3 linked regions of the Homo sapiens genome follow. The protein of the gene in region 2 interacts with the protein of the main gene of each other region in a biochemical or structural test. Each region holds a gene or a part of one and is shown on either strand. Other genes may lie near its edges.

The links.
Region 1: the proteins of CAT (region 2) and EHHADH form a complex in vitro, tested with the Homo sapiens proteins (one study listed by BioGRID).
Region 3: the proteins of CAT (region 2) and PTPN11 form a complex in vitro, tested with the Homo sapiens proteins (one study listed by IntAct).

Annotation. Positions count from the first base shown.
Region 1 is NC_000003.12:185,201,911-185,205,567, reverse strand, and holds part of EHHADH (peroxisomal bifunctional enzyme), read left to right. Parts: intron 1-810; coding exon 811-1,152; intron 1,153-3,657. UniProt on the Homo sapiens protein: Peroxisomal trifunctional enzyme possessing 2-enoyl-CoA hydratase, 3-hydroxyacyl-CoA dehydrogenase, and delta 3, delta 2-enoyl-CoA isomerase activities. Catalyzes two of the four reactions of the long chain fatty acids peroxisomal beta-oxidation pathway.
Region 2 is NC_000011.10:34,469,848-34,472,631, reverse strand, and holds the end of CAT (catalase), read right to left. Parts: intron 1,675-2,784; coding exon 1,591-1,674; intron 1,265-1,590; coding exon 1,199-1,264; 3' UTR 572-1,198; downstream 1-571. UniProt on the Homo sapiens protein: Catalyzes the degradation of hydrogen peroxide (H(2)O(2)) generated by peroxisomal oxidases to water and oxygen, thereby protecting cells from the toxic effects of hydrogen peroxide.
Region 3 is NC_000012.12:112,453,447-112,457,103, forward strand, and holds part of PTPN11 (tyrosine-protein phosphatase non-receptor type 11), read left to right. Parts: intron 1-1,117; coding exon 1,118-1,234; intron 1,235-2,503; coding exon 2,504-2,617; intron 2,618-3,657. UniProt on the Homo sapiens protein: Acts downstream of various receptor and cytoplasmic protein tyrosine kinases to participate in the signal transduction from the cell surface to the nucleus. Positively regulates MAPK signal transduction pathway. Dephosphorylates GAB1, ARHGAP35 and EGFR.

The sequences.
Region 1 (3,657 bases), on a different chromosome or scaffold from region 2:
CATTGAATTGTTTGGACACCTATGTTGAAAATCATTGGCTATAATTGTAAGAGTTTATTTGTGAACTCTCGATTCTCTTCCATTGATATATATACCTATCCTTGCATCAATACCACGCTGTCTCCTTTTCTAGGTATTTTAAAGTTTTTGTTACTATTAGGAACGGAGTTAAGGTTATTTTGAATCTAAAATATTCACTCAATAATAGACACTAGAGTCTCTACTACAGGGGAAGGGAGGGAGGATGGCAAAGGTTGAAAAACCAACTTCTGGGTACTATGCTCACTACTGGGGTGGCAGGATTATTCATATCCCAAGCCTCAGCATCGTGTGATATACCCATGTAACAAACCTGCACATGTATGCCCTCAATCTAAAATAAAAGCTGAAATAATTTTTAAAAATTAATAAATAAAATATTAACTCAGAACCGTTTTCCTTAGACTCATTAATATTTAATATATTAATATTAATTACAGATTAAATATTAATCTATTGATTAATTTAATTAATTAATCATTAATCTATTATAAAATTGTCTTGGTCTTGGATTAAAAAGAAAATACAACTTTTATGCCTAAACTAGGTAACCTAAAATTGCTTTGAGTCTACTAAATTCTATCTTGTAGGACTGTGTTGCAAAGATATCAGAGATGTTAGTGTACATATGTTTAGTGTACATTAAATGTCTTAATGAATAGCTTTTAGTTTGTGCTTTGAATTTGAACAGGTTATTGTTATTACTATATATTCACATTCCCTTTGTACAAGTAACATTTCCAAAGCTCTGATCCTTCTTATTCCTTTCAGATCAACCTCTAGAATCCCGTAGACTCTGCAACAAGCCAATTCAGAGCTTGCCCAACATGGACAGCATTTTTAGTGAGGCCCTCTTGAAGATGCGGAGGCAGCACCCTGGGTGTCTTGCACAGGAGGCTTGTGTCCGTGCAGTCCAGGCTGCTGTGCAGTATCCCTATGAAGTGGGCATCAAGAAGGAGGAGGAGCTGTTTCTATATCTTTTGCAATCAGGGCAGGCTAGAGCCCTGCAATATGCTTTCTTCGCTGAAAGGAAAGCAAATAAGTGGTCAACTCCCTCCGGAGCATCGTGGAAAACAGCATCAGCGCGGCCTGTCTCCTCAGTTGGTGTTGTTGGTAAGACCATGGGGTAATGAATGGAATCCTCCAAATCTGCTCATGTAATGTGCTACCATTTGCTTAGGGCTACCGGATGCTAGGTTTCACGTAAGACACATTACTTGTGTTAGCTAAGCTAATTCTCACACCACCCCATGAGCTCTCTTCTTTAACATGAGAGGCCTAGAGACGCCAGCCTTCTCAATGGTGAGCTAAACACGAGTAGGGTGAAAGTCTGACCCTAGGTCTGACTCCAGACTGGGAATGTTTTATTCTTTTTTTTTTTTTTTTTTTTTTTTTTGAGACAGAGTCTTGTTCTGTCACCCAGGCAGGAGTGGAGTGGCTCAATCTCGGTTCACTGCAACCTCCACCTCCCAGGTTCAAGTGATTCTCTTTCCTCAGCCTCCTGAGTAGCTGTGACTACTGCCACCATGCCCAGATAATTTTTGTATTTTTAGTAGAGACAGGGCTTCGCCATGTTGGTCAGGCTGGTCTCGAACTCCTGGCCTCAAGTGATCCACCTGCCTTAGCGTCCCAAATTTCTGAGATTACAGGTGTGAGCCACCATTCCTGGCCTAGCATTTTTTATTCTATGCTACCTCTTCCCTGTATGAATCTCTCATTCCTGGATTTCCTGATGATGATGATTTGTACCACATTTCAAGGTGTGGCCTGTCACTCTCATAGCTGGGTATTTGCAATCAAGTCTCTGTCTTTCCGTCCCCCGATCCATTCACTTCACCTGTTCAAAACCACTATCCTCAAATCCATCTTAACCCTGAAACCATGGCTTCCTTACTTTTTTTCCCTCTGGAATTTTCCCAAACAAAATATCTTCCTTCCTCAGATGCTAGCTCCCTGATTGGCTTCTCTGGGCCACTTTCCTAAGCTTCACTTGCTCTTAGTCTCGGCTCAAGAACGGTCTTTGGTGGATTTTAAATCCCTTGAGATGGTAAGTGAAGCATTCTTTGCACCAGCTTAGGTACAATCTTCTGGGGAGAGGGTCCATAGTTTACTAAAAGCATCAACTTTCTTTCTTTTCTTTTTTTCTTATATTTAAGTTTTTTTAATCATAATTAAAGACATGCAGGAAAGTTATAATAGTACAAAAAATTCTCATATACTTTTTATCCAGATCCTCCAAATGTTAACGTTTTACTATATTTGTTTTATTTCCCTCTCTCTTTTCTGAACCCTAAGAAAAAGTTACAGACTTATGTGTATTTCCTAAAATTAATATTCTCATACATGACCACAGTATAATTTATTTTAAAAAACAGGGCAATTAATATAAAGAACTATTATTTAGTCTATAGCCCTTATTCTGATTTTTCTTTCTTTTTTCTTTTTTTTTAACCATCTTTACGATTTGTAAGTATACAGTTCAGTAGTAATAAATATATTTATATCCTTTTTTTTCCCTTCATCTCCCATCCCCCCCTCCCCTTCCTGGCCTTTGGCAACCACCAATCTACCCTGTATCATTATGAGATCTACATTTTAAGCTCCCACATATGAGTGAGAACATATGATATTTGCCTTTTTGTGTAAAAGCATCAACTTTCTTAACCCTTGCCCAGCTGTCTAGCACAGTGGTCTCCAACCTTTTGGCACCAGGGACCAGTTTCACGGAATACAATTTTTCACGGATTGGGGGATGATGGTTTTGGGATGAAACTGTTCTACCTCAGATCATCAGGCATTAAATTCTCAGAAGGAGCATGCAACCTAGATCCCTCACATGCGCAGTTCACAATAGGGTTCGCGCTCCTGTGAGAGTCTAATACCACCACTGATCCGACAGGAGGCGGAGGTCAAGGCTGAAATGCTCCCTAGCCTGTTGCTTACCTCCTGCTGTGCTAACAGGTCACGGACTGGTACCGGTCCACAGCCAGAGGTTGGCGACCCCTGCTGTAGCACCAACCCAACTTGGAGGCAAAGATCTCACTCCACATTTTCTCAGTCTGTTTGTTCTCTCAATTCAACTTTGGTATCAAAGAATCTGTCTCTAATATAAATACATTGTGCTCCTTTCAGCTCTGACTCTGTTGAGGTCTACCCTTGATTCGCTTGGGATTTTTTTTTTTTTTTTTTTGATATGGAGTTTCGCTCTGTCACCCAGGCTGGAGTGCAGTGGCGCAATCTCAGCTCACCACAACCTCCGCCTCCCAGGTTCCAGCAATTCTCGTGCTTCAGCCTCCCAAGTAGCTGGGATTACAGGTGCTGCGCCACCAAGCCTGGCTGATTTTTGTATTTTTAGTAGAGACAGGGTTTCACTATGTTGTCCAGGCTGGTCTTGAACCTCTGACCTCAGGTGATCCGCCCACCTTGGCCTCCCAAAGTGCTGGAGTTACAGGCGTGAGCCTTTGTGCCCAGCCTCACTTGTGATTTTTTAAGAAGATGGATAAGTAGAGTGACAAAGAACTATGATTGTTCCTCTTTTTGTACTATTAAATATTTCAGCAATACCAATATTTATTTCTAGTTGTTGTGCACTTAACCTCTTTCTCCTTCAATTCCTTC
Region 2 (2,784 bases):
ACTCGGCTAATTTTTGTATTTTTTGTACAGACAGGGCTTCGCCATGTTGCCCCGGCTGGTCTCAAACTCCTGAGTTCAAGTGATCCTCCTGCCTTGGCTTCCCAAAGTGCTGGGTTTACAGGCATATGAGCCACCACACCCGGCACAAACTGGTTTTGAATATGAACGGAATAAAGATTTTCAAGGAAAACAAATTTTCATTTAGTATTCAGAACTCATCTTTAAAGTCTTCCATGTGATTTTCAACCATGATAGGCAAATATGGGCTTTAAAAAGAAGGAAGAGGAAAGTGACCAGTGGTTCTGAGCCCTTGTTTTAAAAAGTCAATCACAGGTAAGTGAGCAAATGGACAAGAGATTTAAGTAATTTTCAAAGTTGGGGCATTTGCTATTTTATCAGTGTCTCAGAAGGCTGTCCAAAGGCTATAGATTTAAACAAATAACATGGAGTCCTCGAGATACTGGCATTTCCATTTTTAAGGGTAAACATCTGAAAATGATGATGTTCAAATTAAGAGTCTGGTAGCAGTTTACAGTTACATATGGAGTCGAAAGAAAGAAAATACCATCTCTGTTCTTACGTACAGATTATTTATTGTAAAAATGTAAGCAATTACAAATTGATCTGTTGTGAAATCAGTGCTGAATTAACATTAATGTAACTCCAGTGAAAAAAATGAATTTGATCAATTATTATCAGGAATAAACATTAAGCCATGACGGTGCTCAAGTTATCTTCTGATGACACTGCTGTATTAAATGTACTTTTCCTATGAGAACCTTAGAAAAATAAAAATTTCTGAGTAGATCATCTTTATCTTTTCTTTTTATATATTTATAGCCATATTTTAATATAATAGGCCATGAGGTGATATGTAAACATACATAATTTCAACAAATTTTGTCAAATAAAATCATATTTCTAGCTAGAAACTTGCCTTCTAATCATTTTAAATGAATAATCCAATCATCCGTCAAAACAAATTTTTTTTTTAAATGACTGTTAAATCCTAACCTTCATTTTCCCCTGGGGAAATAGCATTAAAATTGTTACACAATCTGCTATAGAAAGTGGGATTCTCTATTTTGAAGCCACTAGCTTGCATTTGCACATCTAGCACAGGAGAATCTTCATCCAGTGATGAGCGGGTTACACGGATGAACGCTAAGCTTCGCTGCACAGGTGCAGGGCCCCGGCCTCACAGATTTGCCTTCTCCCTTGCCGCCAAGTGAGATCCGGACTGCACAAAGGTGTGAATCGCATTCTGTTTTAAAAGAACAAGATGAGCAGGTTAATCACCTCATGGGCAGCAACGTGATATTTACTCAGTTTTAATATGTATGCAAATGAAAATAATAATTCAGAATTCATTCACTTTAACTGTCTTAAATTGCCCAGCGCTAAAATGAAGAGTATGTGTTTTGCCAGTGAATTCTTTATCTCTCAAATGAATTTCTGCACAGCTGCCTAAGAAATCTAACAGTGGCAGGTAATGGCCCCTGCAGACTGTAATGCTAAGTGGTAACTAAGTCATGCCTACTCCAACCCAGCACACACAGCCTCTGCATGGCCAGGCTGCTCCCAGCTTACCTTAGGCTTCTCAGCATTGTACTTGTCCAGAAGAGCCTGGATGTGGCTCCCGTAGTCAGGGTGGACCTCAGTGAAGTTCTTGACCTAAGGCCAAAGGAAAATAAATGCAAGCATTACTCTAACTCCCTACTATATCACTCCCCAGGGACTGTGGTTTCCCAGTGTTTATTCCATAGGGGAGGAAAGACGTTTCAGCAGGAGGCAGTACTACAGGTGTTTAACAATGCCAGCCTCAGAGTTAAGATGCAGGTCCAGTGAACACTCTGACATATACTGGCTGAGCAACCTCGGATAGGTCACTTAACTTACTGAGCTTATGTCCCTCTGCCGAAATGCGCAAGAAAATGACACCTAATCAGTATAATTTTAAAAATACTATTTGGTCTTTGTCCCCCATTCCTGACACAGATCTAAAACCCTTCGAATGTACTGTCTTTTATATACTACTAAGATGATTCATGGGGGCCTACATAGATTCCTGATGGAGGCTCACACCAGGAAGAACAAGCACGCGATCAGAAGGTTAGAACTTCTAGCCCCACCCCCAAACCTCCAGGGATGGGAGAGGGGCTGGAGATTGTATTCAATCACCCATAGCCAATAATTTCATCAATCATGCCTATGTCATAAAACCTCCAGAAAAACCCACAACTGGCAAGGTCAGGGAGTGTCTGGATTAGTGCACACATCCAGGAGCTAGAAGGGTGGTCCACTCAGGGAGGCACAGAAGCTCCGAGGCCTTCCCCCATGCCCCTCTTCCATTTGTCTATTCCTGAGTTGTATTCTTTATAATAAATTGGTAATCATAAGTAAATCATTTTCCTGAGTTCTATGAGTCTTTCCAGCAAATTATCAAACCTGAGGAAAGGGTTTGATTTGCAGTCAGAATCTGCAGAAGTGTGCATAGCCAGGGTACCTCATTTGTTATCTAAAGTGGGAAATGACCCCTAAATCTTTGGGTTCTGACTCTAGCTCCAGGAGCTACTGTTAGAATTGAATTGAGTTATAGGACACACAGTTACTGTCAAAGAATTACAGAATTGCTTATTGTCGGGGAAAAAAACCCATACAACCTAGGCCAGGCGCAGTGGCTCACGCCCGAAATCCCAGCACTTTGGGAGGCCAAGATGGGTGGATCACCTGAGGTCAGTAGTTCAAGACCAGCCTGGTTAACATGGCAAAACCCCATCTCTA
Region 3 (3,657 bases), on a different chromosome or scaffold from region 2:
TGACAGAAGACAGACACCATTACATTCAAAGTCAGATTGTCTTTTATTTATTTATTTATTTATTTATTTATTTGAGACAGGGTCTTGCTCTATCACCTACAGATGGGGTTTCACCACGTTGGGTCTGGTGACCCAAATCTTTGGGTGATTTTTCTGCTGGAAGAGGACAAACACCATTACATTCAAAGTCAGATTTTCTGTTTTTTTTTTTTTTTTGTTTTTGTTTTTTTAATATTCATTTGTTTATTCATTTGAGACTGGGTCTTGCTCTGTCACGCAGGCTGGAGTGCAACCTCCCTGGGCTCAGTTGATCTTCCCTCAGCCTCTTGAGTAGCTGGGACTACAGGTGTGTGCCACCATGCCCAGCTAGTGTTTGTATTTTTTGTGGAGATGGTGTTTTGCCGCATTGCCCAGTGTGGTCTTGAACTAGTGCTCAAGAGGCCTGCCTCCTTCAACCTCTCAAAGTGTTAGGATTACAGATGTGAACTACTGTGCCTGATCCAAAGTCAGATTTTCTTTGCTTACTTAGTCAAGTTCGTCTATGCTTTTATTATACTTAATATATTAGTATAGTTACTGTATTAGTATATTAGCATATTTAATATATTATTATACTTATCATACTTGAGTATATTGAGTATATTTACACTTTTAGTATATTTGTATACACACACCACATTTTTATTATTTATCTTTTTTTTGAGACAGAGTCTCCCTCTGTCTCCCAGGCTGAAGCACAGTTGGCTCACTGCAACCTCTGCCTCTTGGGCTCAAGTGATTCTCGTGCCTCACCCTCCTGAGTAGCAGGGATTACAGGTGTCCACCACCAAGCCTGGCTAATTTTTGTATTTTTAGTGGATATGGGGTTTTACCATGTTGGCCAGGCTGGTCTCGAACTCCTGACCTCAAATGATCTGCCCGCCTTGGCCTCCCAAAGTGCTGGAATTACTGGCGTGAGCCACTGCACCCAGCCTATTATCTGTCTTTTGATGGACATTTAAGTTGTCTCTATATACTAGCTATTGTGAATAATGCTGCAGTGAACATGAGAGTGCTTGAAAACACTAATGTAACATAAAGGTAACAAATAATAAATGTCATGTGTTTATCTTGAAAGGAACTGAAATACGACGTTGGTGGAGGAGAACGGTTTGATTCTTTGACAGATCTTGTGGAACATTATAAGAAGAATCCTATGGTGGAAACATTGGGTACAGTACTACAACTCAAGCAGGTGAGCAGATTGGAAAGCTCAAGCTTTCTCCTTAAAAACTTAAAACAAATCCTAATAGAGAATTTTGCAAACATACAGAGGTAGACAGAATAGTATCATCAGCCTCCATGTACCCATTGCAGCTTCAACTATCAAATCTTTTTTTTTTTTTTTTTTTTTGAGACAGTCTTACTCTGTCACCCAGTCTGGAGTACAGTGTTGCAATCTTGGCTCACTACAACCTCTGCTTCCTGGGTTCAAGCGATTCTCCTGCCTCAGCCTCCTGAGTAGCTGGGACTACAGGTGCCCACCACCATGCCCGGCTAGTTTTTGTGTTTTTAATAGAGATGGGGTTTCACCATGTTGGCCTGGCTGGTCTTGAATTCCCGACCTCAGGTTTTCTGCCCGCCTTGGCCTCCCGAAGTTTTGGGATTACAGGCGTGAGCTACCACGCCCGGCCCTAAATCTTTTCTTATTATGATTCCACTCACTGACTGCCGCTATAGTACTTGGAAACATATTCCAGATTTATATTATTCCCATATTTATCTGTAAAAGGCATTACAGAGGTTCTTTTTTTTTTTTTTTTTTTTTGAGATGGAGTTTTGCTCTGTCGCCCAGGCTGGAGTGCAGTGGCGTGTTCTTGGCTCACTGCAACCTCTGCGTCCCGGGTTCAAGAGCTTCTCCTGCCTCAGCCTCCTGAGTAGCTGGGATTATAGGTGGTGCCACTACACCCAGCTAATTTTTGTATTTTTAGTAGAGATGGGGTTTCACCATGTTAGCCAGGCTGGTCTTGAACTCCTGACCTCAAGTGATCTGCCTGCCTCAGCCTCTCAAAGTGCTGGGATTATAGGCATGAGCCACTGCATCTGGCCTAAGGCTGTACAGAGTTTTAAAGCAAGTTTTCATTATAGATCCACTTCTGGTTACCTTTAGGTAACCTCACTTATTCACTTTGGCATTGTTGCTATTTCAAATTTCACCTTTATGATAGTGGAAAATGATATAATCTCTCTAAATAATGTGGTCTATTCATAAAGAAAAATAGGCTTGAATTTATATCAGCAGAGTAAAGTGTATGTGAAGACTGAAGAAAGATACATTTTCTGGCTGAACAGAAAACACGGTGAAACGATTTGAAAACTTTTATTGTGAATTACAGGGTCCTATGAACCCTCTGTCCGTGCCTTTATGAATATCAACATAGACATGTTTTTTTTTTTTTTTTTGCATTAACACCGTTTTCTGTAATATTTTCTTTATTTTACATCAACTGCTGTACTCGATCAGCCCCTTAACACGACTCGTATAAATGCTGCTGAAATAGAAAGCAGAGTTCGAGAACTAAGCAAATTAGCTGAGACCACAGATAAAGTCAAACAAGGCTTTTGGGAAGAATTTGAGGTAAGTTATTAAAAAACTGTTTTTACGTGAGTTGTTATATCCTATTTTTAGTGGAGGAGAAGTTGCTCTTGTGTTTGGAATTGGACCTGAGAGACTTGAAACTGACGTCCTTTTTTAATTCGGCCATTGATTGACACGGAGCAAGTTGCTGAGAGGGCTTCTTCGAAACAGAAGAGCATTGTGTTCTGAGGGAAGGGAGTTGGCAGTGAGTAGTCAATGGATGTGCTAGCCGCTCCATTTGGCTCTTTTGGTTTGGACTGGTGGCAAAATCTCAGAGAAACAAAAGGATCTAATTTCTTCGAAAGATTTCCAGCATGCACTGGGGTCTTTAGAAACAATCTATAGCCTTAGTGCAGCAAATGAGTATGAGTAAAAGAGAAACACCTTGTGGTGGCTTTTTTTTTTTTTTTTTTGAGACAGGGTCTCGCTCTGTCGCCGAAGCTGGAGTGTAGTGGCGTGATCTCGGTTTACTGCAGCCCCGTCCTCCCTGGGCTCAAGTGATCTTCCCATCTCAGCCTACTGAGTAGCTGGGACTACAGGCACATGCCCCTATGCCTGGCTAATTTTTGTATTTTTGGTAGAGATGAGGTTTTGCAGTGTTGCCCAGGCTGGTCTTGAACTCTTGGGCTCAAGTGATCCTCCTACTTAAGCTTCCCGAGTAGCTGGGACTACAGGCACACGATACCATGCCCATCTAATTTTTGTATTTTTTTGTAGAGATGGGGTTTTGCAGTGTTGCCCAGGCTGGTCTTGAACTCTTGGGCTCAAGTGATCCTCCAGCTTTGACGTGCCAAATGTGGTGGCTTTAATTTCAGAGTTCAAATTGATAACTCTGGTAAGTTAAGTGAACTGATTTCTTTTTTTTTTAAATTATTTTTGTTGATTATACTTTAAGTTCTGGGATATATGTGCAGAACGTGCAGGTTTGTACATAGGTATACATGTGCCATCATGGTTTGCTGCACACATTAACCCATCATTTAGGTTTTAAGTCCTGCATGCATTAGGTGTTTGTCCTAATGCTCTCCCTCCCCTTTAAT